7 linked regions of the Homo sapiens genome follow. The protein of the gene in region 4 purifies or fractionates together with the protein of the main gene of each other region. This does not show direct contact. Each region holds a gene or a part of one and is shown on either strand. Other genes may lie near its edges. The genes, in order: TYR, VPS33B, GATD3, PRKD2, CDK10, ZNF552 and MCF2L.

Region 1 (4,183 bases), on a different chromosome or scaffold from region 4:
TCCATATATAATTGAGAACTAGAACTGTTGAGTGACTTGTCTTAGGGCCATATGATATTTAGAGTCAAAACCAAAGCACTGAAACACAAGTTTCCTTATTCTGAAGCAATACCCACTACATTAATTATGACGTGTTAATGGCTTAGGAATGGTTGAATAAAACTAACCTAACTTTTACATTGAATGTAATATGTTGGATGCTTTTATAATTTGGGTTAACTGGACGCTACAAGTATGTAGACTAAATCATTTTTATTCCTCTTTGAGTAATCTCAGGATATTTTCAAAAGATCCTGCTGCCTTAAAGACTCCTACAGCCAACTCAGTTAAATTAGAGAGGCTTGAATGAAACTATTTTTGCTGAAATGCCAACTGCCAAGTGACTAAGTGTTCGGATGACTGGAGGTATTACTAACGAGGAGAAAATCTACCCTGGTTCCAGAAATAATTTGAAAAACTCCAAACCTTAGTCTTTACACTGCATACAGGAGAGGAGGCAGGCTAGGAGAAATTATATTAGCATTGTGCTTATGATCATGAAGATTCTAGTCAGAAAGACCTGGTTTCCAATACTGACCCTATTAGTTACATGGCCTTGGGCAAGTTACTTAAGCTCTCTGGGTATTAAGTTTTTTCATCTGTAAATGGGAATTATACGTTTCTATCAATGATCAAATAATCTAACATGTATAAAGCACTTAGCATAGTGCCAAGTGTAAAGTGTTTAATAATGACAACTATCATAATTATTTTTGAAAACAAGACCATTGGGCAGGTCACCAAATTGTTTTTAACTTTGGGTGTATAACACTGTTTGAATATTCATTATTATATCTAACTTTGATGTATCATTTAAAAATATATTATTTCCACACATGAAACTCAAACAATAGGTCAGATCCTAAACAAGCCATATAAACACATCTTATTGAATCCCTTCACAGTAATGCTTTAACCTATATTATTCTAATTTTAGGGACAAAAATCGTCTCAGAATAATTAAGTAACTTAGGGTCTTGTAGCTAAGTAAGTATGAAAGTTCACTCAAATTCATGCTGATGTGACTGAAAAGACTATACTCTTTCCACTACATTATTCTGTTTCCCATTCCATTTAATCCTCCTATTAGCACACACACAAAACATGTATAGATGGTAATTCTACCTCATTTTTTTTCTCTTTGGAAAAAACAAAGGTCAAAGATTTTAAATAACTGGTCCAATGTCGTCTACTAAATGGCAGGGGTAGAATTTGAGCCTGGATGTTCTGATGATGACTCTGTTTTTTTTCTATTTCAACGCAAGTGATTTATAACATATGCTGGGGGGACGATCAAGTGTTCCAAGTCAAAGAAAAAAGGGGAGATAGAAGAAATAGATATATTAATGAGGAAGGTGAACCTAAATACTGTTCTCTTAAATTTAAAGAAATAGCAATAAACTGCCAGATATTAAAAGCTTTTGGGAGCAAAGATTTTGTTATAGCATTAGAGGTTTATCTGGGGGAAAAAATGTAAACCGTATGACATTCCACAAAATCTTTTTCATAAAGAAAAAAGAGAAGCTGTTATTTCACTGAGCTGTCGTCATGGTTACCTAAAACCCATGACTCTCTGCTGAAATGTGACTTTTTTTCTTCTCTTTGCTTCCATGTGATGTGCTTTTCACCTGATGAGTGAATTCCCTGGTCACAATTCACTCATGTGTATCAGCTAGGAAATGTTTTTTCCTCTTTGTTTCTGTTCATGATGACACCTATTCCTGATACCCCTTTTATTTTTGTAGCTAGCTGATCTGTTGGTTGCATAACATTAGATCTAATTATATTGAGCATGGGTAGTTTGTACTTAAATGTTATTAAGCAACCCTCCACCTCCAAATATAATGAACTATTTTAATTGATGATAAACATGGCCCCTAATTTAAAGCTTTGGGAGTTAAATAAATGAGCAAACAACAGACATGAATTAGGAACACAATATTTCCAAATAAATTAATTACCTGATTTTAACATATTTAACAGAAAACTCTGACCAATAAATATTAACTTCATTTAAATCACACTCAGCTATGTTGCACCTTGCTTCATCTTCTCTCTTGTATTGTCTTTCTTTGCATGCACACACGCAGACATACATATGGAACTACCAGAGAGAACGACACAAGATATATTATACCCAAATTTGAGTAAGTGGCTATTGTTGACATTGTTGTATCCTTGGCATTGGGAATCCAGTGCTATAAAAAAACTGCAGTGAATGGTCCTAGAAATCTACCCATGCAGAGTTTAATATTTTATGTATGTTAGCATTGGAGCTAACGTTTCTTTGATGTTAAATTCAGCATGTATTTATAAAGCCTGTTCCATGTGTATATTATAGTCCTGTGCTCTGTGGATACAAAAATATTTAGAAATGATCACCACCTTGGAGCGACTGACAGGCTGGCAGATACAGACAGGCTGGAAAACCACTACATGTAATGAAAAGTTACAAGTGCTATGATACAAATCTGTATAAAGTACAATGATAGCACAAAGACGGGGAGAGGGTCAACTCTACCTGAGTAACAGAGGTGGATCAGTAAAAGTCTCAGAATATTTTCATTATGATATAAATTAAAAGGACTACATCACTGTGTCTGCCTATGTTGTCTGGGGCAGGACAATTTTAAGGGAGTCAACGTGATCAAATGTCAAATTATACACCCAGAAATTAGCGGGTTACTTGACCCCTTCTGAACCTAAATGGATCCTTATAAACAAGAAATAACATTGTTGACTTAAAAAGCACTGCAGTCAGAGCCGCTTGGTTTTAGTCCTCAGATGTGTGACTTTGGACAATCATCCTACCATTTTAGGCTTTTCTATAGTTTTTTAATAAAATGCACAGGTTACCCTAAATAAAATTGAAGATCTCTCAGCTCAGAGTTAATAAATGCTATCAAATCTCTCAAATCTCAATTTTGGGGTCAAGTAAAATGATATCTGAAACCAATAAAAAAAGAAGGCTTTATGTGAAAGGTGCATCAGCCTAGCTAATTTGGAAGGTCTTAACTCAATCTAGAAACTATTTGATCTCATCTCACACAAATAGTCTAGTTCTTAATTTAAGCATTCAATTTGGACAAAGGCATTCAAATTAATGGTGTGTTTATTACAGAACATGCGTTTTTGTAAAGTGAAAGTAAAAAGATACCAAAACAATCTCCATTAACTCAATGATTCTCAGTGCTGGCTGCACATTAGAATCACAAAATGAGGGTTTAAAAATGCAAACACTTGAAGGCCCAGCTTGATGGCTCAGGCCTGCAATCCCAGCACTTTGGGAGTCTGAGGCGGACAGATCACTTGAGGTCAAGAGTTCAAGAGCAGCCTGGCCAACAGGGTGAAACCCCATCTCTACTAAAAGTACAAAAAATTAGCTGGGAGTGGTGGCAGGCCCCTGTAGTCCCAGCTACTAGGGAGACTGAGGCAGAAGAATCACTTGAACCTGGGAGGCGGAAGTTGCAGCGTATGGAGATTGCACCACTGCCAAAAAAAAAGACTCTTGAACTTTACAACCTCACAGGAGACCACCTGAATCTGAATTTCTGGCAAGAAATTAGGTGCATAAAAACCTTGCAACAGTTTTTTATTTTTACTTTTTAAATGGTTTTTTGGAAGCTTCCTAGGTGATTTTGACATTGAGAACTCTGAATTAAAGCAATGTAAGCAATCGATCTTAACTATTTTAAGGACTTTGTAACCAGAGAGGCTGTGTGAAGGAATGGAAACAGCCAATGTGAGTGGGGTTTGACTGTCACCTTTGCCACTAATAAGCCCTTGACACTACTAAAACATAGTAGGTGAGCAGCAAATGCTCATTTCACCTTTCTTAAACTGTGGTTTGCTTGTTTCTCTTCAGTCATCTTCCTTCCACTCTGTTTTCTAATTTTATTTTTGAAACCTGTTTCTACACAGCAATTTAATCATAGAACAAGGTTGAAGTTGATAATTGTATCAATTTCAGTTCAGGGCTTACTGACTTGACACACTTTTTTTTTTTTCTAGAGAGTATTAAAATTGAACACATTCATGAAGAGAGAAAAAGGAAAAAGTTCTGCTTGACAATTAATAAGTAATTAGGAAAATAATACTCATACAGTTGTGGATAGCATCTGGTATTACACATCTCATGTAATTA
Region 2 (4,183 bases), on a different chromosome or scaffold from region 4:
AGTAATGAGGAGGGTGCTGGCACATTTATAGGAGCACTGTTTGCTGATGCCTGAAATGGCTCTAATGGCACACAATCTTTCATTCTGCAATAAGAAACAAACGCTTAAAATTGAAGTGCCTCCTTAAATTAAAACAACAAAGTCATTTTCTCAAAAATGTAATGAATCACAACATTTTAGAACTGGAAACGTGCTTGCTGGTCACCTCAGCCATCTCCCTCATTTTATGGTAGAGGAAACTCAGGTACAGAGTGGTAGAGTGATTTTTACAGGGAAGAACCAGACCAGGCCTGGAGCCACTACAAAGTCCAGGCCAAGAAGCACAGGAAGCCCCTGTAGCAAGCTCCAATGGGCTTTCACTAATAAAGATGGAAGTGCGTGTCCAGAACGACCAACGTATTACATCTGAGAGCAGAGGCTTTATTTACAATGACATTCAAACAGGATTTAGCAAAGGATGCCTCTTCCTGCTCGCATCTTAGCAGCATGGGTTGTACTTCATAAACAGAAAAGAGAAATATCCTGGGAGCAGGAAGTGAACTCTTTTCTCAGATAATGTTCTCTAAATCCCAACACGTTCCATGCTCCCGGCTCTTAGCAGGTAGTTGGTGGACACTTGGTTATAGCAGCTGGGTGCCAGATGCCTGCATCTCACTGAGGAATGTGTTCAGGGAAGATGTCAACACTGGCCGGGAAAAACATCAGGCTTTCACCTCACTCATGGCCTCCATAAGGCGAGCGCTGTTTGTGACTGCTGTCGTCAGGAAAATGAACCTGTAGCCTAAGGAGTCAAATGCAGCAGCAGAAGAGACAGCACAGATCTTAGGCCCCAACGGCAACCCATAGAGCCTCTCCAGTTCCACAGTCCCCACGGGATCACAGCACCAGTTTATAGACAGAGACGTGAGTGCCATGCTCTTGGGCACCACTGCTTTCTATGACTGGTATAACTGGGCTCCCTGCTGTGGCAGCCCAGAGTTAAGGCTATGGCAAGTTGTATTCTGAGGCCAGGAGAAAAATATTCCTGTGCAGGACACTTTGCGTGTTTTTTTTTTTTCTCTTGAGATGGAGTTTTGCTATTGTTGCCCAGGCTGGAGTGCAATGGTGCAATCTCAGCTCACTGCAACCTCCACCTCCCGGGTTCAAGCAATTCTCCTGCCTCAGCCTCCCGAGTAGTTAGCATTACAGGCACCGGCCACCATGCCTGGCTAATTTTTGTATTTTTCGTAGAGATGGGGTTTCACCATGTTGGTCAGGCTAGGCTCTAACTCCTGACCTCAGGTGATCTGCCCGCCTCCGCCTCCCAAAGTGCTGAGATTACAGGTATGAACCACCGTGCCCAGCTGACACTTTGTTACCCAGATACAATGCAGGCCAATTCTCACCTTTCTGCTCTCTCTTACCTTTCTCTCTGCCCAGGAACCGGAGGGCTGAGATCTCAGAGAATGTACAACCACCCAAGAACACCACCAAGATGAGGCGCAGGGACTCACTGGAAGCCTTGTCTTCCTTAGTCATATCTGTGAGGATCAGACCAGATTCAGCCCTTCCCTGACATGCTAGTCCTGAGTGGTGCATCCAGCCCACCTCTCACTGCCAGCCTACCCCACTGTTAATGCCACATACCTGTGAATGCAAAGTCACTGCAGTTGAGCAGCCGTACCACCTCATCAAGGCCCTGCCAGCTTCGCCGCTCTAGCACCTGGGAAGGTGTAAGCACTGTTTTTAAGGCTACAGACAGTATCAGGCTTAGGAAAGGAAGGGCACAGCAGCCAGACTGTCACATTTCTTGCTCATTACTCAAGTAGCAAAAAGTTGAGACAGGGCCAGGTGTGGTGGCTCACGCCTGTAATTCCAACACTTTAGGAGTTTGAGGCGGGGGGATCACCTGAGGTCAGGAGTTCGAGACCAGCCTGGTCAACATATAGTTGGCCCTGTCTATATGAAACCCCATCTCTACTAAAAATACAAAAATTAGCTGGGTGCAGTGGCACATGCCTGTAGTCCCAGCTACTTCGGAAGCTGAGGCAGGAGAATCACTTGAATCTGGGAGGTGGAGGTTGCAGTGAGCCAAGATCGTGCCACCGCACTCCAGCCTGGGTGACAGAGCAAGACTCCATCTCAAATAAAAAAAAAAAAACATTGAGACACGCCAGGGACCAAGAGAAAGCAGAGAGAATGAAATATGAATGGGAGCAAGAATTACATGCTCTCACCTGCTCAATGATTCGGCAGCTCAGGGGCACATAAGCACCACCGAAGACGTAAGCCATGTCTCGGGGCACTTTCAGATCATACTCGCCGTCCACACGTGGGATCTGTAAGACAAAGGGACTTCATTAGGCAAGTGACAGCTCAGCTCCCTAACCCTTTAAAGGGTCAGATAAAGTGGCATGGCCCAAGGAACAATTCTTATTTCAACTAAAGGGAGAACCAGCAATAGCCCTGAAAAGAGAATCCATAACGGAAGATGGCAGTTTTTGTTCAGTAACTGCCAGTTCTCTGGAATGAGTTCCCATGCGCCATTATTGAATAATGTAAAGGGGCTGGAGGGATGGCTTCTCCTTTCCCTACCCTTAAGTGACACAGGATATGGTTGTCACTGAAGCAGCACTTAGAATATTCTCTGGCATTGGCAGGTGCTTGTTACATGTTGATTAAATGAATGAATCTACCATGCTATAAGACTACCAAACAAAAGAATCTTTATACACATGAAATGACAAAAAGGTTTTTGTGGATTCAAAGTACTCCACAATGGGCTGGGCGCAGTGGCTCATGCCTGTAATCCCAGCACTTTGGGAGGCCGAGGTGGGCGGATCACCTGAGGTCAGAAGTTCAAGACCAGCCTGGCCAACATGGGGAAACCTTGTCTCTACTAAAAATACAAAAATTAGCTGGGCGTGGTGGCACATGCCTGTAATCCCTTGGGAGGCTGAGGCAGGAGAATCACTTGAACCTGGGAGGCAGAGGTTGCAGTGAGCTGAGATTGTGCCACTGCACTCCAGCCTGGGCAACAGAGCAAGATTCCATCTCAAAAAAAAAAAAAAAAAAGAAAAGTACTCCACAATGGAATGAACCCACTGTCTCCCCTAACCATCCCTGTTCCACATACCAAATTCAGCTTTTTGCTGATGGCACGAAAATTGCTCCTCTTGGCCAGAGAACTGAAGGCATCAGTAATCTTTCCTGGGGAAGAAATCTGTGTCAGGTTTCACCTAAGGTCTATGGATTCATGACACTGCCACAGATAACACCATTCAGGACACGACAGCACCAATCACATCCAAAAACTCTCGGAAGCTGTTCAACTATAATTCCCTGGAACTAATCAAGATATACTCCCCACCCTTCTCCCCACCCACAGTCTTCCCCCTCCTACGGGGTACCAGCTCTCTACTAAATGCAATCCACAGGGTAACCCGAGTTTATTGGTATGTGCTTTGGGAGTTAAACCGACCTAACTTACTAACTAAGGGACCTTGGACAAATCACTTAATTCTCTAAGCCTCAGTTTCATCATAAAATGAGGATGAGAAAATTTATCTCACAGTCTTTGTGAGATTAAATGAGAAACTAAAGGGCTCAGCACATGGTAAGTGTTTACTATGTGGAAACTGCTCTTACTAGCAGAAGTAGTAGTAATAATAGTAATGACATTAATAGGAAGGAATCAGTCCACCTTCTCCAATTCATTCTGTCCCTCCCAGCATGCTGCGTGTTGAGAGAAGTCAGGACAACAGCTGGAGCAGGGGTCACTTGTGCTCCCTGCTTACCTGCAGCCTTGTCGGTCACCAGCTTGCTCACTTTACTCTCCACGGCTGTGAGGGTGTCCCCGGGGGCCTGCTCCGTTAGGAGCCCAGCTCTTCGCAGATTGGAGAAGGTTAGCAGGTGCTCAGGGCCATAGCTCTGAAGAAGATGCAATTAGACTATTTACTGAGTGTCCAAAGAGCATCTAGTACTGTCAGGTACTACAGAGTTGAGCAGAAGGACTATGAAGCCTCTGCTGCAGTGTGAAGGAGCTCACACTTTGTTGAGATAAATTTTCACATCAGAAATAACCAAACAGGGCTGGGAGCGGTGGCTCATGCCTGTAATCCCAGCACTTTGGGTTTGGGAGGCCAGGGCAGGCAGATCACTTGAGGTCAGGAGTTTGAGACCAGCCTGGCCAACATGGTGAAAC
Region 3 (4,183 bases), on a different chromosome or scaffold from region 4:
AGGAGCCTCCCTCCAAATCTCCCTGGGCAACAGCCCCGCTGGTGTTCTTGGTCCATCATCTCAGAACTCAGGGTACACACCTCAACAGGAGGGGCTGGGGGCCGCAAGGCTGGCTGAATCACCTGGCCACCCAAACTGGCCTGAGAACTTCCGCCCAAATGAAGCCAGGAAGCCCCTTCTCCTGCACACCCGGCCGCTTTCCCCCAGCATCTCAGGAAGCCCCCGCCTCCTGCACGCCCGGCTGCTCTCCCTCCACACCTCGCACACACTCTTTCCTCACCCTCCCCCCGCTGGGCCCGGAGTGTGGCTGCCTGGGTGTTGCTGAGCAGACTAAACAGTCAGGCAAGGGACCTGGATCTGCCAGATCTGCCAACCACGCACCAGAGCTGCGCTTCTGACGTGTCTGTGACCCACCTCACACCAGCTGGGCTGTCACAGCCATCTGCTCTCTGCCCTTAGACACATGGCTGCGGTGCCCACTGGGGGAGGCCCCACAGGGAGAGCAGCAGGTGCAGCTCCCGGTGAAGAGGCCACCCACCAAGACAGCCCGGAGGGAGGGGCGTCCCTATGCACGTCTCAGGGACAAGCACGACAGCGGGCCGGGCCTGGCTACCAGGAAGGATATGACCACTTCCTTCACGCAGTGCTTGGCACCCAGGGCCTTGATGGCCTCTGCGGTCCCGGCATAAGGCCACTTGCCACCTTCCTCCTGCTCGTGGCCCACAGTCACCTCGACGCCTCTGAGCACCTTGGCCGCGAGGACAGGTGCAATGCAGCACAAGCTGAAAGGCGAAAAGAACACGGGTCAGGCAGGCTGCATGGCCTGCAGAACAGAAATTACCCTCGCCATGACCCCAGGCTGCCCTGCCACGGGAGCCCTGCCGACCCTGCCCCCTGTGAGCCTGCGCTGCCAGAAGGCTGTGGCCCATGGGATGTGATGGAGGTGGCACCAGGTGACTCAAGGCTGAGAGTGAGGTGTCCTCAGCCCCACTCCCCGCCAAGCACGCCCTGCAGGCACTCAAGCACCAGGCCAAGGACCCCTGAGGGGAACCCCCAACAGCCATGGGCTAAGCCCCAAGCCCCAGGACACCCCAGACTGGCGAGAGTCCCGGGCTGCCAAAGTCCACTCACAGAGAGGGTAATGATGTGCGGCTGCCCCAGCCCTGAGTTGTGGGGTGGTCTGTGACCCAGCAATAGATAACACAGCTGCACTTCTCATTCACACCAGCCCCCCTTCTACAGGAGGCACAACGGGCCAGGAGCAGCCTCGCCAGCCTCCGACCTGCAGCACAACTCTCAACAAGTGCAGGCTGGTGGACGCACGCCCCTGACCCTGACGCACAGGCCGCAGCAGCCCTGAAACTGAGGGTCCTGCCACACCCACCCCTGGGACCTGCTTCTGCTTCATCAGGAACCCCTCCCTGCCAAGTCAACAGAGGCCCCTGTGTGCCAGGCACTGTGCCCACAGCAGGGCCTTCAGTGACCTGTGTCGTCCAGCGCCTCATGGCCACCCAGGGGCAACAGTGGAAGGAGTACGGCCTCATTAACAGCAGCCCCATCCCCTGGCAACCTGTGGTGTAGCCCACAGCTGTCAGGCCCCACCCTGCCCTCAACACCCCGCACCCTTCATCCCTCCTCCCGCTGTCTACAGTCCTACCCACTCCCGACAGGCCCAGGTGGAAACTGCTACCGTGAGCTGTAACGAAACACTGTTAAAAACACATTTCACAGCCAGGTGCAGTGGCTCATGCCTGTAATCCCAGCACTTTGGGCAGCTGAGGCAGGCAGAACACCTGAGGTCGGGAGTTCGAGACCAGCCTGACTAACATGGCGAAAACTTGTCTCTATTAAAATTACAAAAGTTCGGCCTGGTGGCAGACACCTGTAATCCCAGCTACTTGGGAGGCTGAGGCAGGAGAATTGCTTGACCCCGGGAGGCGGAGGTTGCAGTGAGCCAAGATCACTCCAGCCTGGGCAACAGAGCGATACTCTCAAAACAAACCCGCCCCCAAAACTGCATGTCCTGAAGCAACTTCTGGCTGCCTATGAGATGAAACCCCCCTGCCGCCCTCTGCGCAGGCAGAAAGTCCAGGAAGCAGGTTCTCAGCAGCTCCCGACGCTGCGTGCAGCCGCCCAGCCATCAACTGCCAGCTACAGATGCCACAGTGGCTCCTGGCACAGCCCAGCGCCCACCTCGACTACTGCATTCAAGGAAGGGGTCCCAGCAGTGAGCGGCTGGGCCGCCTAACAGCCCCTGGCTGGCCACGCAGGCCTCTGACACCAGGCTGAGGGGTGGGTGGGGCCAGTGGGAAAGGATTTAGGTTTCCTCAGGAAAAAAGCCTGTGGGTCACCGTGCACGGAAGCCCCATGGCTGGACCGGGGAGCAGACGGGCTTGTGCCCTGCAGTTTTCAGGGGAGCCTCATGGCTGGACCGGGGAGGAGACAGGCTTGCGCCCTGTGCTGTTTCCAGGGGAGCCTCATGGCTGGATTGGGGAGGAGATGGGCTTGCGCCCCACACTGTTTTCAGGGGAGGCATGCTCAGAGGCAGTGGTTCACCTGCCAGGGGCTGTCTTGTTTCATCGAGATTTTTAATCAGTCACAGAAGAAAGGGCCATGGGCTCCTCCCTCTGGGCGCTCATCCAAGGAACACTTCTCTGACAAGGACGGGATCCCGAGGTGGAGACCATGGGCGAAACCTTCACCCCGGCTGTGACACGGCTGCAGCAGGGACCTCCTTCAGGAGCTCTGAGCCTGCACCTCTTCCTGAGGCTCCACTTTAGGGGCCTCCCTGGACAGTGACCAGGCAGGTCCTTAAGTGAGTGACTGTGGATGGGGAGACAGAGGATTCCGATAGATCCTCATCCTTGTTCGGCTGACAGAACTCGGTAGTGAGCGGCCATCGCGAGTGCGCCTCACTGATGTTCACCCACGCAAGTGCGGCTCTCGCCCTGCCAGCACCAGACGCAGCTGAGACCTGGACAGCACAGCGCCGCGTTCCAGGACCACCAAGGAGCAGGTGCCGGGAGGCTCGTGGAAGCATCACACCTGCCGAGGCGGAACCCGGCCTTGCTGGGTCACCCTCACACATCTGAGAGTGACTTCCCGGCAGCAGACGCTGAAGAGCACACACTCCCTGCGGGGCTGCGACCCGCCACGTAAGCCAAGGCGCTTACGTGGATGAAGGAGTGGGCGCCCTACTCGTGCCGCCAACCTCAGGACCCAGGCTTTGTCTGAGCAGGGACAAAGGGGCGTGGTTGGCTGTGGCTCCCCAGGAGGGAGGCCGCTGGGAGTGGATGGCGTCAGGGATGGAGCACGTGCTGCAGTGACTGGCCAGAAGTCAGCGGGGTTGGGGGTACTGTGGCTAAGGGGCTTGGGAGAAGGGGTCTGGTAAAGGATAGGGGTCCTGAGGGACTGCCTAGGGACACCTCTGGGAGCCAAGAGAATTCCAGGCCTCCTCTAGGGAAGTGCACTGTGCCTCTCCTTCCTGTTAAGTCACCAGTGACATCGTGTGAAATCCCCTCAGTTAAAACAAGAAAAGCAGCTGTGAGTTTTCAGGATCAGCGGCAGCTCCTGGCTGAGAACAGAGGCCGCGGGCCCACGCACCCTCCTCCCTCCCTCCCCGAGGCCTGCACGGCTGTACACACCCGATGGGCTTCCCGGCCTGGTGGAACTCCTTCAGGACACGCTCCACTTCTTTATTCACCTTGCAATCTTTCCCGTCCACGGCAAACGTGCTCCTACCGGGAGACAAAAGGCCTCCTCAGACAGCCTCACAACCAGGGTCTATTCCTGGGGGGCTTCCTAGGCACAGCTCCAGACCCTCAGTCAGCTGCAGCAAGGGACATGGGCATGGCTGCACATATGCGCGTTTGATGTGAACATATTTTCCTGTTTTTTAAACAGAAATAAGCATAGGAAGCAGGAGGATCAGGAAGTGGTGCAGCAGGAGGCCACCAGGGCGAGAGGGCCCACGCCCTGGAACCTTCCGGAGCAGCTGGCAGAACCCGGGCTGCGGTGCTGAGACTCAGACGCTGGTTTCCGGCTCCTAACTCCCGTGCTGCTTGTTAGCTTTCTGTTACGACGTTGGCTGTGTCGGGCCTCGGGCAGCCTCTGACCTTCCCGCCTGCCCTTTACCTGCCCCAAAGCAGGACTCTAATGTTCCCCGCCTTTCTGACTGTGGGTC
Region 4 (4,183 bases):
CCTCTGCTCACAACTCTGCCATGGCTCCCCAGTGCCCTCAGGAAGAAGCCTGAGCCCCTTAAATGGCCTAAAAGCCATGGCCTAGACCCTCATCTACCTCTGACTTCTACCCCCAACATGCTATTCCTGACACACTGGCCTCCTTGCTCGGCCTCAAATACAGCAAACTCTCTTCTGCCTTCTGGTCTCTGCATATGCTGTTTCCCCTGCCAGGAATACTCTTTCCTTCATCCTAGACTTAGCTAAATCCTCCTCATCCTCAAGTGTAAGCTCAAATGTCACTCCTAGGACCAAGTTGGATTACTCTCGCAAATGCTCTGCATCACACTCGTTGCTTGTATGGGTTAATGATCAATGTCTGTCACCCACACTGGATTATAAGCTCCAGAGGGTGGGAACCTGGTACTCTCTCAACATTTTTTGCCTCTGCCTAAAATGACCTCCCATTTTCTTTCCCACATCTCACCCTGCCTCGGCCTCCAGATCTCAGTTCAGATGTCACCTCCTCCAGGAAGCCCCCCTATATACCCAGATTGGGTCAGGTACCCCTCTGGGCTCCTCTAGCTCCCTAGCTTCCTTGTCCCAACCCTGCCCACCCTGGACTGTCACTCTCTGAAGATGGGTATTCTGCCCTACTGGACTCTGAGCCCCATGAGGGCAGGTCTTGGGCTGTCCTGGCCACCACTGGGTCCCCAGCACTGTCCCGCACAGAGGAGGCACTCAGTAAGTGCATGAGGACTTATCAGCACCTGGGACAAGGCTCATGGAGGGGAAGTGATATGCCCAGGGCCACATATCAGGCCAGGAGCTTAACAGAGATTTGTTGTGGATTTTTGTTGTTGTTGTTTTTTCTGTTTTGGAGACAGAGTCTTGCTCTGTCACCCAGACTGGAGTGCAGTGATGCAATCATGACTCACTACTCCCAGGCTCAAGCAATTCTCCTGCCTCAGCCTTCCAAGTACCTGGAACTACAGGTGTGCACCACCACACCTGGCTAATTGTTTTTATTTTTTGTAGAGATGGAATCTCATTATGTTGCCCAGGCTGGTCTTGAACTCCTGGCCTCAAGTGATCCTCCCTCCTTGGCTTCCCAAAGCGCTGGGATTAACAGGAGTGATTAACAGAGTTTGAACCCAGGCCTGCTGAGTCCAGAAGCTGCGTTCTCAACCCCACCATTGCCCACTTTCCTCTTTGGCCCTTCCATTCCCCAGAACCGTGCCCCACCCATCTAGATCTATTCTCTCAAGGACCCGAGGTGGGAGGACTTACTGTGGGGCGCGTGGCCTGGGGCGCTGGGTGCGTCCTGAAGGATGACGGGCATCAGGGCCTGGCGGATGGCTGTCTCCCAGCCCCGGGCGGCCTCAGCCCCCTGCCCACTTGGCCCACCCGGAGTCCCGCCAGGCATCTCGCCCACGAAGTAGGTGGCATTGGCAGTGACGATCTCAAAGCAGTGTGGGTTGGTGCCCGGCGGCACAAGGCTGAAGTTCTGGGCGGACTCCACCGTGAGGATTTCTGACAGCGGAATTTCCTGCAGGACGTGGAACCAGCACAGGTGAGGATGCCAGGCAGACCTTGGAATTCTAGTGCTTACCCAGAAGGATACACGGGATCCATGTTGATAGGGATGGGCCTGGTTTGCACAGTGGTCAGACAAGTTCCCAGTAATTCTAAGCCTGTTCTCACTGTTCTTTTATAATTACTGGCAGAGGCCAGGTGCGGTGGCTCATGCCTGTAATCCCAACACTTTGGAAGGCCGAGGTGGGCAGCTCACTTGAGGTCAGGAGTTCGAGACCAGCCTGGCCAACATGGCAAAATCCCGTCTCTACTGAAAATACAAAAATTAGCCAGGCGTGGTGGTGTGCGCCTGTAATCCCAGCTAATCGGGAGGCTGAGGCAGGAAAATCGCTTGCACCTGGGAGGCGGTGGTTGTAATGAGCCAAGATCGCACCACTGCACTCCAGCCTGGGCGACAGAGTGAGATTCCGTCTCAAAAATAATAATAATAATACTAATTACTGGCAGAAGTGATATTGAAGCAGAGACCAGAAAGGTAAGAAGCAGCCAGTTGGCAAGGAGTAGGGGAACAGCATGTGCAAAGGCCCTAAGGAAAGGCTATGCTCAAAAGCCAAGCTGTATCCCCATCACATGGGCGGTGCCTGGACATAGTAAAAGCTTGATAAACATTTGATGGCCGGATGTGGTGGCTCGTGCCTGTACTCCCAGCACTTTGGGAGGCCGAGGTGGGCAGATGGCCCAGGAGTTCAAGACCAGCCTGGGCAACACAGTGAGACCCCAGCTCTACAAAAAATTTAAAAATTAGGCATGGTGCCACAAGCCTGTAATCCCAGCACTTTGGGAGGCCAAGGCAGGCAGATCGCTGGAGCCCAGGAGTTTGAGACCAGCCAGAGCAACACAATGAGACCCCCATCTCTACAAAAAATAAAAAAACTAGCCAGGTGTGGTGGTGCGCACCTGTAATCCCAGCTACTGTGGAGGTGGGAGAATCATTTGAGCCAGGGAGGCAGAGGTTACAGTGAGCCATGATCATGCCACTGCACCTGGGAGACAGGGCAAGAGCCTGTCTCAAAATAAATAAATGGGCTGGGCATGGTGGCTCATGCCTGTAATCCCAACACTTTGGGAGGCCAAGGCAGGCGGATCACAAAGTCAGGAGTTCGAGACCCGCCTGACCAACATGGTGAAAGCCCATCTCTACTAAAAATACAAAAATTAGCCAGGCGTGGTGGCACACCTATAATCCTAGCTACTTGGGAGGCTGAGGCAGAAGAATCACTTGAACCCCGGAGGCGGAGGTTGCAGTGAGCCAAGATCGCGCCACTGCACTCCAGCCTGGGTGACAGAGCGAGACTCCGTCTCAAAAATAAACGTTTGATAATAAATGGAGGAAATGAGGCCACACAGGGCTTTGCGGGCCACAAGGAAGAGCCTGGGCTTTGTCCAAGGGCCCTAGGAAGCCACTGAAGGCTTTTGAGCATCATCCGCTTGTGTGCGGAGGGCAGATGGAATAGAATGAGATGGAGACAGAGAACCAGGAAGGAGGCTGAGGGGACCCAGGCGGGACAGAAGGCACAGGGACTATGGGGTGGGAAACGTGTCAAAAGAGGAAGGAGGGAGGTAGGAGAGAGGAAAGAATGAATGACTTAGGCAGCCCATAAAACCAGGTGATGACATGGACACGTCGGGGGGGCATGGTGAGGACAGCATTATATTTTATTTTATTTTATTTTTTTGAGATGGAGTCTTGCTCTGTTGCCCAGGCAGGAGTGCAGTGACGCGATCTCAGCTCACTGCAACCTCCACCTCCCAGGTTCAAGCAATTCTCCTGCCTCAGCCTCCCAAGTAGCTGGGGTTATAGGCACCCGCCACCATGCCCAGCTAATTTTTGTATTTTTAGTACAGACAAGGTTTCACCATATTGGCCAGGCTGGTTTCGAACTCATGATCTCAAGTGATCCGCCCACCTCGGCCTCTGAAAGCGCTGGGATTACAGGCGTGAGCCACCACGCCTGGCCAAGGACAGCATTTTAGATGGTGTGGTCTGAGCAAAATGGGAAGATGATAAGGAACCAGCCATGGAAAGTTCAAGGAAGACGCTCCAGGGCAGGTAACAGCTGGAGTCCAGGTTTTATTACTCTAAGACAATGGGAGCCACTGGGGGGTTTGACGGTTTTAATGAAGACTCCCCTGGCTGTGGGGGAAATGACAGAGGTTGTGAGGTCAGAAGCAAGGACCCTGCAAGGAGAAGGCTGAAACCATCCAGGTGGAAGACAGTGGCTGGGACACAGTGTGGGCATGGGAGGTGGTGACGAATACGCACACAATGCAATACATTAATTATAAAGAAATAGTGAGGCCGGGTGCGGTGGCTCATGCCTGTAATCCCAGCACTTTGGGAGGCCGAGGGGGGCAGATCATGAGGTCAAGAGATCAAGACCATCCTGTCCAACATGGTGAAACCCCGTCTCTACTAAAAATACAAAAATTAGCTGGGTGTGGTGGCATTCACCTGTAGTCCTAGGGTGGGAGGCTGAGGCAGGAGAATCGCTTGAACCCGGGAAGCGGAGGTTGCAGTGAGCCGAGATCGCGCCACTGCACTCCAGCTGGGCGACAGAGTGAGACTCTGTCTCAAAAAATAAATAAATAACAAAAAATAAAGGAATAG
Region 5 (4,183 bases), on a different chromosome or scaffold from region 4:
CCTAAGCCGGCCAGCAGGAGCCTTTCCACATTTCCCCACCCTCGGAACCCAGACGCATGCCCACATGTGCTGGGTAGAGGGGTCCAGCCTGTTCCAGCCAGTGCCTGAACCTGTCCCTGAGAAGGACCCTGTGCCCCAAGGCCCGTGGCTCCTGGCCTGCTCCCTGCAGTACGGAGTACGGGGCTCAGGACTTGGGGGTCCTCCACGTGTCCCAGGGATTCTCCACACGAGTGTCCTCAAGGGCCTGTTGGTGACACCGAGCTCCCCCCACCCCAAGCTCTGCTGGAGCCAATCTGCGGGGCTCTGCCGGGTGCACGGCTGACCTGGCTTCGGGGACGCCGGCCCTCCCCTTGGGTGTCACAGCAGCTGGGCCCACAGACAGGAAATGACCTGACCTCAAACCAGATGTGGAGGTGCACGAGAGGCGCAGGAACGGGCAGTGGCTGACAGCTGGGAAGGCCCTGAGCGTCACTGCTGCTGGGCGGAAGGGCCTGTGGACAGCCCGCCCAGGCGGCGGGGTCTTGGTGGGTCCAGTGGTAATGGTGCCCCTCCCCTCCATTCCCTGTGGGTGCAGCCCACAGGCTGGCGAGGAGGTGCCTCTGCCCTACCCTCGGGTCTGGCGAGGGAGAGGGCAGGGTGCATCCACTGTGACAGCCCCTCTGGGCCCACAACTCCCTGACCCTGGAAGCTGAGCCTGCTTTCCTGACCCTCCGCCCCACCCCCTCCTCCCCAGAACACTCAGAGGGACGGTCAACATCAGAGCACATTAAACGCTGGTGAAACCATGTCTGTTAAAAAAGCTTTTATCCAACAAGAGCCTATAGCTTCGCTCAGCATCAGAGCCACGGCCTCCTGTTGGGTCCTCCATGTGGGGAGCAGGGATGCAGCTCAGCCTCCAGCCCAGGGCTCTCCTGGTAGTCTCGGGGTATCCTCAATTGTGGCTCCCACCCCATACCTTGTCCCTCTTGTCCTCATCTGGAGTCCTGCCAGGCCCACCTGGGGTCCCCACAGCCAACCCATGCACGGGACAGCCCCGGGCGACTGAGAGGGGATACGAAGGTCTTCTGGGCCCTCTCATCCCAGGCCAGCGTCCACCACAACTCAAAGACAGCGGGGGGACTGCACCCACCACTCCTCCCAAGAAGCAGTGGTTGCACATTTCCAACATAGCGAGGAGGACCACATGAGACCCCTGCAGCCACGGATGGAGCCGCCAGACCTGCCCTTCCAGGGTGCACGGGCTGGGAGCCCCCCGGTGTCACCCGGCCTTTTTCTGGGGGCAGCAGTGGGTTCAGGGCAGACAGTGGGAGGAAGTCAGTGGAGGATGTTCCCAGCCAAGGGGATGAGCTGGATCCCGGGCGCCTGGTCAGCCTGGCTCGCGGCACCCTTCACAGACACCACTGATCGGAAGACCTGGTGTGGGAATACAGGCGTGTGCCAGGCCCACCGTCAGGGTTTACAGCGCTTGCTCTGGCCCTCGGAGGTGGCTGGGGCGGCCCGCTTGTTGCGGTGGTGGGGAAAGGTCGGCATGAGCTCCGGCTCACAGGCTGCAGGGAGAAGGGTTCAGTGCTGGGCGGGGCAGGGCCCCAGATAGGAGGAGCAGGCCCAGGTCTGAGTCCAGCTCTGCCTCTGGACCTGGCCCTGGGCTGTCTGTGCCTCCACATGCCCCTGTCCTCTTACCCCAGAAAGGGTGTGCCGTCAGTGAGGGCAGCAGGCCACTTCTCCACCACCCACCCCGGGCAAAACGGGCTCCCAGCCATACCCCACAGAGCGAGTCAGGAACCCTGCACACTCACGTAGGGGCTTCTCCTTGAAATAGGAGCTCTCCAGGCAGTCCCCGGCCGTCGCCCTGGAGGAGGCAGCCTGCGTTAGTGCGACTTGTGAGTGCGGCTTCCTCACCTCCCACCCAGCTGAGCAGCCTGTGATTCAAATGCTCAAAGGAAGCCAGGTGGCCACTCCGAGCGGCTGTGCCTGGGGAGGGGCCTCTCCACCGCAGTGAGGCTGGGCTCTGGGAAACGGTCTGGACAGTGTGGGTGGTGAGGGTCCCTGCCCCCCGTGCAGAGATCAGCACCTTTTCTTAGGGTCGTACATGAACAGGAAGTGCAGCAGGCGCAGCCCGGCCTCCGACAGCCATGGGAACTTGTGCTTCAGGTTGTTGTAGGGCTGCTTCCGGAGGCTGTACTGGCCGACCAGTGGCAGCTTGGAAAAGCCCTATGGGAGGCAGGAGCTGAGGCGCAGAGGGCGTGGGCACGGGCGGGGGCTGCGGGCGCAGAGGGCGTGGGCACGGGCGGGGGCTGCGGGCGCAGAGGGCGTGGGCACGGGCGGGGGCTGCGGGTCTGCCCAGGACGCCCACCGGCCAGATGTTCTCACTGGGCGTGCCCAGCAGCTGCACGATCAAGTCGATCTGGTGGATCTCGGAAGTGCCGGGGAGAAGAGGCCTGTGCGCCAGCAGCTCGGCCAGTATGCAGCCCACAGCCCTGCAGAGAACAGTGGACCTCACTGCGGCCAGACGTCTGCTGACCCCGCCAGCGCGAGGAACAGAGGACCTGACTGCAGCCAGACCTTTGCTGACCCTGCCAGTGTGAGGCACGCTGGGTCAGGGACACTGTGAAGGACAGGCAGGGACCACTGGCTCCCCTCCTGGGCCCCGCAGGCCTCCCGGGGTGACAAGTGCAGGGGCAGGCGTGCCTCCTCCAGACCTCTGTGCTCCCAGCCTGAGAACAGCAAGCTAAGTTCTCACACCTCCTCCTGGGTTTCCAGGCTCAGGCCCACCTCCCTGGGAGTGGGAGGCTGGCAAAGACCCCACTGCACTCCTGCCCCTCCCCTGAGGCTGAGCTCAGGAACCAGGTGACCCGGCTCCTGTCCCAGCCCTTCCTGAGGCCCCAGGAGCGGTAACCGTATCTCCTCACCACATGTCGATGCTGGTGGTCTGCGTGGTGGTTCCCAACAGCAGTTCAGGGGCTCGGTACCTACACACAGAAGCACCCACCTCAATACAGCCGGCTCCTCTCCCCCAGCCCAGGCCTCCACAGGACACAGCCTCCCCGAGAGCCTGTGGTGGCCTGGAAACCTGTCCCAACTCGGACCACCCTCTGCCCCAGGCCCTGCAGATCCAGGTGGCACACACAGCAATGGTTGCCGGGGGCGAGAGCTGTCACGTGCAGCGGTGTCCTGAGAGTCGCAGGGACCACGGACCCTCGGCACACAGCCACACCAGCCACTACCAACCCGTTCTCAGATGGGGAGTACACGACACTGGGGTCCTGACCTGATTCTGACCAACTCTGATATTCAGCCCTGGCTAAGCATGACCCTGTTTGGTTAAAAGTATCCAGGAGGAAGAACCAGGGAAAGCATGCAAGCTGCCTGTCCTTCAGTCCGTGAAGCAGCCTTCCCTCCAGAGATGGTTTCACGGCCACGGTGTTTCCAGCTCTCAAGGCGAGGTGTGTCTGATCTAGGCAGGCCCTTGACGCCACTGAGCCCGTCTCTCACCATTTTGTGGCACAGCCCTGCTGTGTCCTGGAGGCTGTCCTAGACCCAACGTTTCTGAGTGTGCACAGACCCTGTAGCTTAACATTCCCAAGGCCAGTTGCAGCTTCGGCCTGACATCCCCAAGGAGACCTCCACCAGACAGGCCTGGTCCCCAGGGGCCACCATGCTTCAGAAGGACTTACCAGAGAGTGACCACCTTGGGGGTCATTGGCTTTACTGGGACACCATAGGCCCGGGCCAGGCCGAAATCCGCTGCAGCAGAGAGGGGAGTGTGTGTCACCAAGTGCCATCTAGGGACAGGGCCTGGCCCAAGTTGCACCCACCTGTCTTCACACAACCCTTGTCGGTCATGAGCAAGTTGGAAACCTTCAGGTCCCTGTGATGGAAAAACAGTGGCAGGTGGCTCCCAGAGGGCCACAGGGGCTGAGAGCTCCCCCACGGCACCAATGCCCGTAGACTTCCTGCACGTTTCCTCAGCTTTGGGCTTTTTAGTATCTTTTTTTTTTTTTTTTGAGACAGAGTCTCACTCTGTCGCCCAGGCTGGAGTGCAGTGGAGCAATCCCGGCTCACTGCAAGCTCCGCCTCCCGGGTTCACGCCATTCTCCTGCCTCGGCCTCCCAAGTAGCTGGGACTACAGGCGCCCGCCACCACGCCCGGCTAATTTTTTTGTATTTTTAGTAGAGATGGGGTT
Region 6 (3,349 bases), about 11 Mb from region 4:
AATAAATGTTTTTGTTTTATTTTTTTTGAGACAGCGTCTAACTGTCGCCTAGGCTGGAGTGCAGTGGTGTGATCTCAGCTCACTGTAACCTCTGTTGCCTGGGTTCAAGTGATTCTCCTGCCTCAGCCTCCTGAGTAGCTGGGATTACAGGCATGTGCCACCACGCCTGGCTAATTTTTGTATTTTTAGTAGAGATGGCGTTTCACTATGTTGGCCAGGCTGGTCTCAAACTCCTGACCTCAAGTGATCCACCCACCTTGGCCTCCCAAAGTGCTGGGATTACAGGCGTGAGCCACCACGCCTGGCCTCAGAATCAATTACAGGCGCAGTGGCTCACGACTCAGGCCTGTAATCCCAGCACTTTGGGAGTCCAAGGCAGGCAGATCATTTGAGGCCAGGAGTCTGAGATGAACCTGGTAACACGGCAAAACCCCATCTCTTCTAAAAATCAAAAAACAGCCAGCATGGTGGCTCATGCATGTAATCCCAGCTATGTGGGAGGCTCAGGTGGGAGAATCGCTTGAACCTGGGAGGTAGAGGTTGCAATGAGCCAAAATCACGCCACTGCACTCCAACCTGGTCGACAGTCTTTAAAAAAAAAAAAAAAGCAGCCGCACGCGATGGCTCATGCCTGTAATGCTAGCACTATGGGAGGCCGAGATGGGCGGATCACAAGGTCAGGAGATCGAGACGATCCTGGCTAACACAGTGAAACCCTGTCTCTACTAAAAATACAAAAAATTAGCCAGGCGTGTTTGCGGGCGCCTGTAGTCCACAGGACTGGCTGAGGCAGGACAATGGCGTGAACCCGGAAGGCAGAGCTTGCAGTGACCTGAGATTGCCCCACTGCACTCCAGCCTGGGGGACAGAGTGAGACTCCACCTCAAAAAAAAAAACACAAAAAAACACAAGCAGCAACTCAAATATCCATAAACGGATGAATGAATATATAATGACATTTCATGGCAGACTATACTTCTCAGCAATATACAACAAATTAACTCATGTCTACATTGATATCAAAATAAGCATGATGCAGGAGAGCACCCAGGGATTATAAGAGGAAACACTTTATTACATCAGTCAGAAAATTCTAGAAAATGGAAAGTATTATACAGCAGAGTAAATCAATGGTTGTCTGCATAGAGAAAAACTTTATAAAGGCTCCAGGTGAATACAAAGGTGATAGATTAGATAAATTCATTATTGTGACTCTGATGATGGTTTCATGGGATTATAAGAAAATTCAAGCCAGGAGCAGTGGCTCACGCCTGCAATCCCAACACTTTGAGAGGCCAAGGCGGGCAGATCACGAGGTCAGGAGATTGAGAACTTCCTGGCTAACAGGGTGAAACCCCATCTCTACTAAAAATACAAAAAAGGTAGGAGTGGTGGTGGTTGCCTGTAGTCCCAGCTATTAGGGAGGCTGAGGCAGGAGAATGGCATGAACCCAGGAGGCAGGGCTTGCAGTGAGCCGAGATTATGCCACTGTACTCCAGCCTGGGTGACAGAGCGAGGCTGTCTCAAAAAAAAGAAAAAGAAAATTCAAGACTTATCCTACAGCTCAAATATGCATACTTTATTGGATGTCATTTATATATTTTATTTTTGAAACAGGGTCTCACTCTGTGGTCCAGACTGGACTGCAGTGTTGCAATCTCGGCTCACTGCAACCTCTGCCTCCCAGGCTCAAGCAAATCCTCCCATGTAGCAATCCTCCCACATGACAGCTCTCCTGTGAGTTATGCAGCCAGACTTCTGGATAAATATCCTGTATTTGTCACACTAGTAAGGCCTTCATTCAGTGTTAACTATAATCCTGAAGGAATACAGAGGTGTGGCTACAAAACTGCCCAAATTTATTTTACTTGTAAGGACTCTTCTCTAGTGTGAACTCTCCAATATCCAAGGAGAGCAGACCTTTGGGTAAACATTTTCCACATTTGCTGCAATCACAGGATCTTACTCAGGTGTGTATTCTCCAATATTTAATGAGACTGGACTCACTGCACTCATAAGCCCTTTCTTTTGTGAACTCTCTGATGATGACGAAGTGAAGAGATTTGCCTAAATTTTTTTTCACATTCACTGCACCCGTAAGGCTTTTCTCCAGTGTGAACTCTCCTGTGTTTAGTGAGACTGGAGCTTTCGGCAAAAGATTTCCCACATTCACTGCACTCATAAGGCTTCTGACCAGTGTGAACTCTCTTATGAACACGGAATGTAGAGCTGTGGGTAAATGACTTCCCACAATCACTGCATTCATATGGCCTTTCTCCAGTGTGAACTCTCTGGTGTGCAATGAGGTGGTACTTGTGCCTAAAAAATTTCTGACAAACCTCACACTCATATGGCTTCTCTCCAGTGTGAATTCTCTGGTGTACAAGGAGGTGGGACTTACTGTTAAATAATTTCCCACATATCCCACACGTATAAGGTTTTTCTCTAGTGTGAACTCCTTGATGATTACTGAAGCTGTCATATTTGCTAGAGGATTTCCCACATTCACACCACACAGAAGGTTCTTCTGTAGGGAGCAGTCTCTCGTGCTGACTGAGTATATCTTTGGTGCTAAAATGTTTCATGCATCCTCCACAGCTGTAATGGCTTTTTCCCCCATGAAACAGAGACACACACTCAGTTTTGCTGTTTGACTTCCCAGTGTGAGTGGCCTCTTGCTGGAGTAATCCTGACCTGAGCAAAAAGTCTTTCCCACTCTCACTGAAGACAGATGACTCCCCTGACACATGCAACTTACACCTCTTCGCAAACAACGCCTCCTCAACACTCCCTCTGTAGGGTTTCTCTCCAATGTGCTCATTCTGGTGCTGATGAAAGTTTCCACTGTCATACAATTTATTCCCCCAGGCCTCACACCTGTGCAGTTTCTGCTTGTGATGTGTTCCCTGATGATCTGCCACATGCAAAATGTCTCCCAAGATCGGGCCACACATCTCACAGGGGTGGGCCTTCTTGGGAGACACACCTGCCATAGGAGTCCTGACCTGAGTCTCTCTTTGTATATAAATACTCTGCTTAGAAGGTGCCGCCTCATCTTCCACTCCACACCAACAACCTGAAAGCAAGAAAATGCTGGTGAAGTGCATGTTAACTCTGGTGGGAAGGCACAGACCACCCACAAGTGTATCTGAAAAACTGAGGAATTACTCCAAGGAAGTACTTGGAGGAACAGGATGTTGGCTTCAGGTGGAAGATGGTGCTATGTATTATTACTGGACTATAATGGTCACAGAATGTAGGAGGCCTCATAACATAAAGGACACAACCATGTATGTAACACAGGGAGTAGAGGCAGGGTCTACAATCCCTGCATCTGCAAACCACTCAT
Region 7 (4,183 bases), on a different chromosome or scaffold from region 4:
ATAATCTTAGGAGTCAAAGGTCAGGTGGCTGCGTGTGAGGGGAGAGGAGGAAAGCACTGTGGGTGGCCCCGCATTGCGGGACCCTCTGTGCCCCATGCACGGGACTGACTGAAGAACTGTGCCTGGCACCCAGGGCACGGCACCCTCCCCACCGTGAGAATCGGCCCTGCGTGCCAGATGCACACTTGCACCGTCCAGGGACACATGAGCTCCCCTGGGGAGGGAGAGCCCGTTTCCTCGCAGCACCCCGTCTGATGTGTACTTTTCCCCACATTTCATTCTGGGTCCAGCTCAGGGTGAAGACAGCCCAGGGCAGCATCCTGAAGTGTACAGCGGCTGCTCCTGGGCTCGATGCAACTTCATGGCAGATCCTTGCACTGGTTCCCATGAGAAACCATTCGTGGCAATGTGTAAGAGGCCAGGGGTAGGGTGGGTGGCCCACCTGGACGATGTAGACCTCCTCGCGCGCGTTGTACCAGATCTCGAACTTCTTAGCATCTCCCTTCACGTTCTCCGTAATGCCAACGGCAGCCATCTGCGAGCAGAGAGTGGAGATGGGGTTCGCGTGCACAGTGAACCCACTGCCTTGTTTTTAAAAGGTGTTGGTGCAGGCACGAAATGATGGAAATACTTTGGGGGTGAGGGCTAAGAATGGCAGAATACCCCACCCCTACACCTAAGGCTGAGAGCTGGGTGTCAGCGTGGCCACCTCAGACCGAGTTACAGACTTCCCCCGTCGGGGTCTGTGGCCAGGAGCGTGCTGCTGCAGACCCGGCCTCACTTACGTTTAAGGACTGCTTGTAGCTGTAGGAGGGAGCTTTCTCATACCCCTCCCCATTCTCCTCCCTCTTCTTGCAGAAGAGCACTGCCTTCTCGTGCAGGAACAGGTGCCGCTGCATGGGCTTGAACCTGGCCAGCTCCTTCACCTTGGTGTGGCCCCTCTTGTGGTCGGTCCAGACGCTGAACGAGCCCTGCATCAGCAGCTTGCCCAGGTCGCCGAGATTCCCCTAAATGTGCGACAGCAGGGCTGTGTTCAGGACGGGATGGGCCTGGGGCCATGGACGCGCATCGCTGAGTGAAAGCAGCCACTCTGCAAAGCCCACCCACGGTGGGATTCCAGCTGCAGGGCGTCCCAGGAAAGGCAAGCTCGTGGAGACTGACAGGTCAGCAGGTGCCAGGGGCTGGGGGAGGAGGGATGGACTGGCGGGGCACATGGGCTTCTAGGACAGTGAAGCTGCTCTGTGTGATGCTCTAGCGCTGGGTGTAGGATGTTACACGCCTGTCCAAACCGCAGAATGCACAGCACCCAGAGTGAGCTCCAAGGGGAACGGCCCTCAGTCACTAATCAGCATCAGCGCTAGTTCACCATGTGTGGCAGGTGTGGCACCCATGCTAAATGTCAACACTAGGGGAAGCCTCAGGGCCTCTGATTTATACTCAATTATCTCACAAACCAAAAATTGCTGCAATAAATCAACTCTATTAGTTAAAAAAAAAACACCTGAGAATGAGTGCTGGGTGGACATAAAGACGGACAAAAGATGAATAAGCTGTGACCTGATGTGGGGCTCTACGGGGAAAGTGACATCTGCCTTCTGGGGCCACTTGCTCTAAGTCACCAGCCTGCAAATCGCAGCCCAGAAAACAGAAGTCACGTCTGCTCCGAGCCACGCCTCCTCCCCAGGAGAAGACAAGGAGTGAGGAGGTCTGAGCTGCGTTCCTGCTGGAGATGCGTGCCCTCCAAGCAAGGGACGCTTCCTGATTTTCTCCACGTCCCAGAGAGCCCAGTGGGGTCTGTGGACCCGGCTGTGGGGTCTGTGGACCCGGCTGTGGGGCCTGGGAGTGGGCTTATCTAGGGACCACCCCAGACCTCCTGCCCAGAACCTGCACATTCACACCAAAGCGAGGGGCGTGTGCAGGGAGGCCGCCAAGTTGCTGGGCTGGTGTATTCCACGGAGGCGGCGGGGAAGACCGGGCATCTGGGCGCCTTACGTCATAGCCGGTGATAGCGATGAGGTGCATGGAGTCGTTCACGGCCTTCAGGATGCCCAGGATGGAGCTCAGCGCCTCCTGCAGGTCCTCAGCCCCCTCGCAGTTCCTGCTGTATTTCAGCATTTCCTGAGGGGCATGGGGTGAGGCAACCGCGTCGGGACACGGAGAGCCCTGGCTCCCCTGGAACAGACCCCTCAGGAGCTTGGCACGAGGTAGGGATGCTGCTCACCCTCCCCTGGTCTGTGGGGAGCTGCCCTGCCTGCCCTCCTGCAGCTGGGACAGACTGAGTGGTGCTGCAGATGGGGCAGCACCCCTGCCAGGTGCAGACCCTTGGCACCTGCTCCCCGGGGAGCTCCCTCCTGCCACCCGGATGCCAGGTGCAAACCCCTCGCACCTGCTCCCCGGGGAGCTCCCTCCTGCCACCCGGATGCCAGGTGCAAACCCCTCGCACCTGCTCCCCGGGGAGCTCCCTCCTGCCACCCTGATGCCAGGTGCAAACCCCTCGCACCTGCTCCCCGGGGAGCTCCCTCCTGCCACCCTGATGCCAGGTGCAAACCCCTCGCACCTGCTCCCCGGGGAGCTCCCTCCTGCCACCCTGATGCCAGGTGCAAACCCCTCGCACCTGCTCCCTGGGGAGTTTCCTCTCGCCACCCTAACCCTGGCCAAAGGCATGGAGTTGCAGTTTCCTGCCTGAAGGTTAGAGGGACCCACATGGCAAACTCATAGCTGGAATCCCCAGTCTAGGCCGCCCCACGTCCCTGCTGTGTGCCAGATAATCCGGGCACGGCTCCACCCTGGAGGGACGGGTCAGCACATCACACAGAATCCCATGTGGGCTGGGCTGTGTGCCAACCCATGGGGACGGGGACTCGTCTGCTCACCTGCGTCCTCAGACCCCTAACAGTGGCGCACAGTAGGACCTCGAAAGGCATCCCAGCCTCAGCACAGGCTCGGAAGAGGTGCCCTTGGCCTGGGAGGGGCAGGGCGCGATGGGGACGGGGCCCCAGGGCGGCACAGACACCTGGCCAGCAGGTGCTGGGGAGGCCGGGCCACGGTCACCGCGGAGCCCACCTTGAGCAGCAGCTGGTACTTGGTGATCCTCTGCACTGGCTTCAGCAGGTAGGAGTCCAGGCTCAGCTTGTGGTCCAGCTTTCTCTGGCATTCCTGGAACCAACCCAGAGCCTTTGGTTTGCACAATTTTCATTATTCCTCAGGAGTCGGCTAGGAAAGGGAGTAACGTTCTAAAGGAAGGTCCGGGGACAAACCTGGAAAAACGGGCAGTCGGAGCACTGTCTCCACAGGCTCTCAGAGCGGGGCTTGTTCTGACAGTACTTCTCATAGATCTGGAAATCTTCCATCTGCACCGAGGGACAGGCACCGCATCACGCAGTGAGGGATGGGCAGCGCATCACGCGGTGAGGGACGGGCACCGCATTACGCGGTGAGGGACGGGCACCGCATCACGCAGCGTCTTCCCGGCCCTGCGAGGCATTGCTGCTGGCCCCATAGCTTCCGAGGGCCGGCACTGGCTCCCAGGCTCCGCTGGGGGGCCTGCCCTCCATTAATGGGGCTCCCTGTCCCAGAGCCCCTGACTTCCCAGAGCACAGGCGTGGAGTGGAGACGGGGTTCCACCGCAGCCATTCTTAGAAGGCCATTTATGGTGTGGTTTGTTGATTTGTTTATATAATAGAACTTCTAGCATTTTCTCTGGCAGTTTTACAAATTACCTGTTATTTAGCAAAAAACAGACCCTAGCCCCATTGTGAAGTGCAATTGCTCCTGGGTGCCTCTAGGGCACAGATGGTTCTAGGGGCACAGAAGGTTTTAAGGCACAGGGCTCAGAAGTTTCTAAGGGACAGGAAGTTCTGGGGGCAAAGGAGGTTCTGGGGGTACAGAAGGTTCTGGGGTTCAGGAGGTTCTGGGGTACAGGAGGTCCTGGGGTACAGGAGGTTCTGGGGGTTCAGGACGTTTTCTGGGGTTCAGGAGGTTTTCTGGGGTTCAGGAGGTTCTGGGGGTTCAGGAGGTTCTAGGGGTACAGGAGCATCATGGTATCTCAGCCAAATTGAAAACATCGTATTTTGTGATTTCAGTTGGTTAGAATAGGAACTTGCAGTAGAATCTGAAGTCATTATTCAGTACTTTTAAGAAGTTGTGACAAAATACACGTCAAAACACCACCTACCCTCTCCAG

The links.
Region 1: the proteins of PRKD2 (region 4) and TYR purify together in Homo sapiens (affinity purification with mass spectrometry, with the first as the bait; one large-scale study listed by BioGRID). This does not show direct contact.
Region 2: the proteins of PRKD2 (region 4) and VPS33B purify together in Homo sapiens (affinity purification with mass spectrometry; one large-scale study listed by BioGRID and IntAct). This does not show direct contact.
Region 3: the proteins of PRKD2 (region 4) and GATD3 purify together in Homo sapiens (affinity purification with mass spectrometry, with the first as the bait; one large-scale study listed by BioGRID). This does not show direct contact.
Region 5: the proteins of PRKD2 (region 4) and CDK10 purify together in Homo sapiens (affinity purification with mass spectrometry; one large-scale study listed by BioGRID and IntAct). This does not show direct contact.
Region 6: the proteins of PRKD2 (region 4) and ZNF552 purify together in Homo sapiens (affinity purification with mass spectrometry, with the first as the bait; one large-scale study listed by BioGRID). This does not show direct contact.
Region 7: the proteins of PRKD2 (region 4) and MCF2L purify together in Homo sapiens (affinity purification with mass spectrometry, with the first as the bait; one large-scale study listed by BioGRID). This does not show direct contact.

What each region holds. Positions count from the first base shown.
Region 1 is NC_000011.10:89,180,417-89,184,599, reverse strand, and holds part of TYR (tyrosinase precursor), read right to left. Parts: intron 1-4,183. UniProt on the Homo sapiens protein: This is a copper-containing oxidase that functions in the formation of pigments such as melanins and other polyphenolic compounds. Catalyzes the initial and rate limiting step in the cascade of reactions leading to melanin production from tyrosine.
Region 2 is NC_000015.10:90,998,274-91,002,456, forward strand, and holds the end of VPS33B (vacuolar protein sorting-associated protein 33B), read right to left. Parts: intron 3,910-4,183; coding exon 3,777-3,909; intron 3,190-3,776; coding exon 3,116-3,189; intron 2,319-3,115; coding exon 2,217-2,318; intron 1,703-2,216; coding exon 1,627-1,702; intron 1,521-1,626; coding exon 1,404-1,520; intron 782-1,403; coding exon 702-781; 3' UTR 400-701; downstream 1-399. UniProt on the Homo sapiens protein: May play a role in vesicle-mediated protein trafficking to lysosomal compartments and in membrane docking/fusion reactions of late endosomes/lysosomes.
Region 3 is NC_000021.9:44,139,804-44,143,986, reverse strand, and holds part of GATD3 (glutamine amidotransferase-like class 1 domain-containing protein 3, mitochondrial isoform 1 precursor), read right to left. Parts: intron 3,738-4,183; coding exon 3,645-3,737; intron 3,046-3,644; coding exon of another isoform or gene 2,913-3,045; exon of another isoform or gene 2,824-2,912; coding exon of another isoform or gene 2,589-2,823; exon of another isoform or gene 2,572-2,588; intron 783-2,571; coding exon 626-782; intron 1-625.
Region 4 is NC_000019.10:46,692,606-46,696,788, forward strand, and holds part of PRKD2 (serine/threonine-protein kinase D2), read right to left. Parts: intron 1,529-4,183; coding exon 1,270-1,528; intron 1-1,269.
Region 5 is NC_000016.10:89,692,959-89,697,141, reverse strand, and holds the end of CDK10 (cyclin-dependent kinase 10), read right to left. Parts: intron 3,869-4,183; coding exon 3,816-3,868; intron 3,745-3,815; coding exon 3,675-3,744; intron 2,970-3,674; coding exon 2,910-2,969; intron 2,715-2,909; coding exon of another isoform or gene 2,597-2,714; exon of another isoform or gene 2,580-2,596; intron 2,574-2,579; coding exon of another isoform or gene 2,478-2,573; coding exon 2,354-2,477; intron 2,212-2,353; coding exon 2,072-2,211; intron 1,850-2,071; coding exon 1,797-1,849; intron 1,548-1,796; coding exon 1,450-1,547; 3' UTR 1,414-1,449; coding exon of another isoform or gene 1,367-1,413; 3' UTR 788-1,366; downstream 1-787. UniProt on the Homo sapiens protein: Cyclin-dependent kinase that phosphorylates the transcription factor ETS2 (in vitro) and positively controls its proteasomal degradation (in cells).
Region 6 is NC_000019.10:57,806,028-57,809,376, forward strand, and holds the end of ZNF552 (zinc finger protein 552), read right to left. Parts: intron 3,077-3,349; coding exon 2,013-3,076; 3' UTR 1,055-2,012; downstream 1-1,054. UniProt on the Homo sapiens protein: May be involved in transcriptional regulation.
Region 7 is NC_000013.11:113,084,059-113,088,241, reverse strand, and holds part of MCF2L (guanine nucleotide exchange factor DBS), read right to left. Parts: coding exon 4,175-4,183; intron 3,351-4,174; coding exon 3,258-3,350; intron 3,157-3,257; coding exon 3,064-3,156; intron 2,119-3,063; coding exon 1,993-2,118; intron 1,008-1,992; coding exon 786-1,007; intron 536-785; coding exon 443-535; intron 1-442. UniProt on the Homo sapiens protein: Guanine nucleotide exchange factor that catalyzes guanine nucleotide exchange on RHOA and CDC42, and thereby contributes to the regulation of RHOA and CDC42 signaling pathways. Seems to lack activity with RAC1.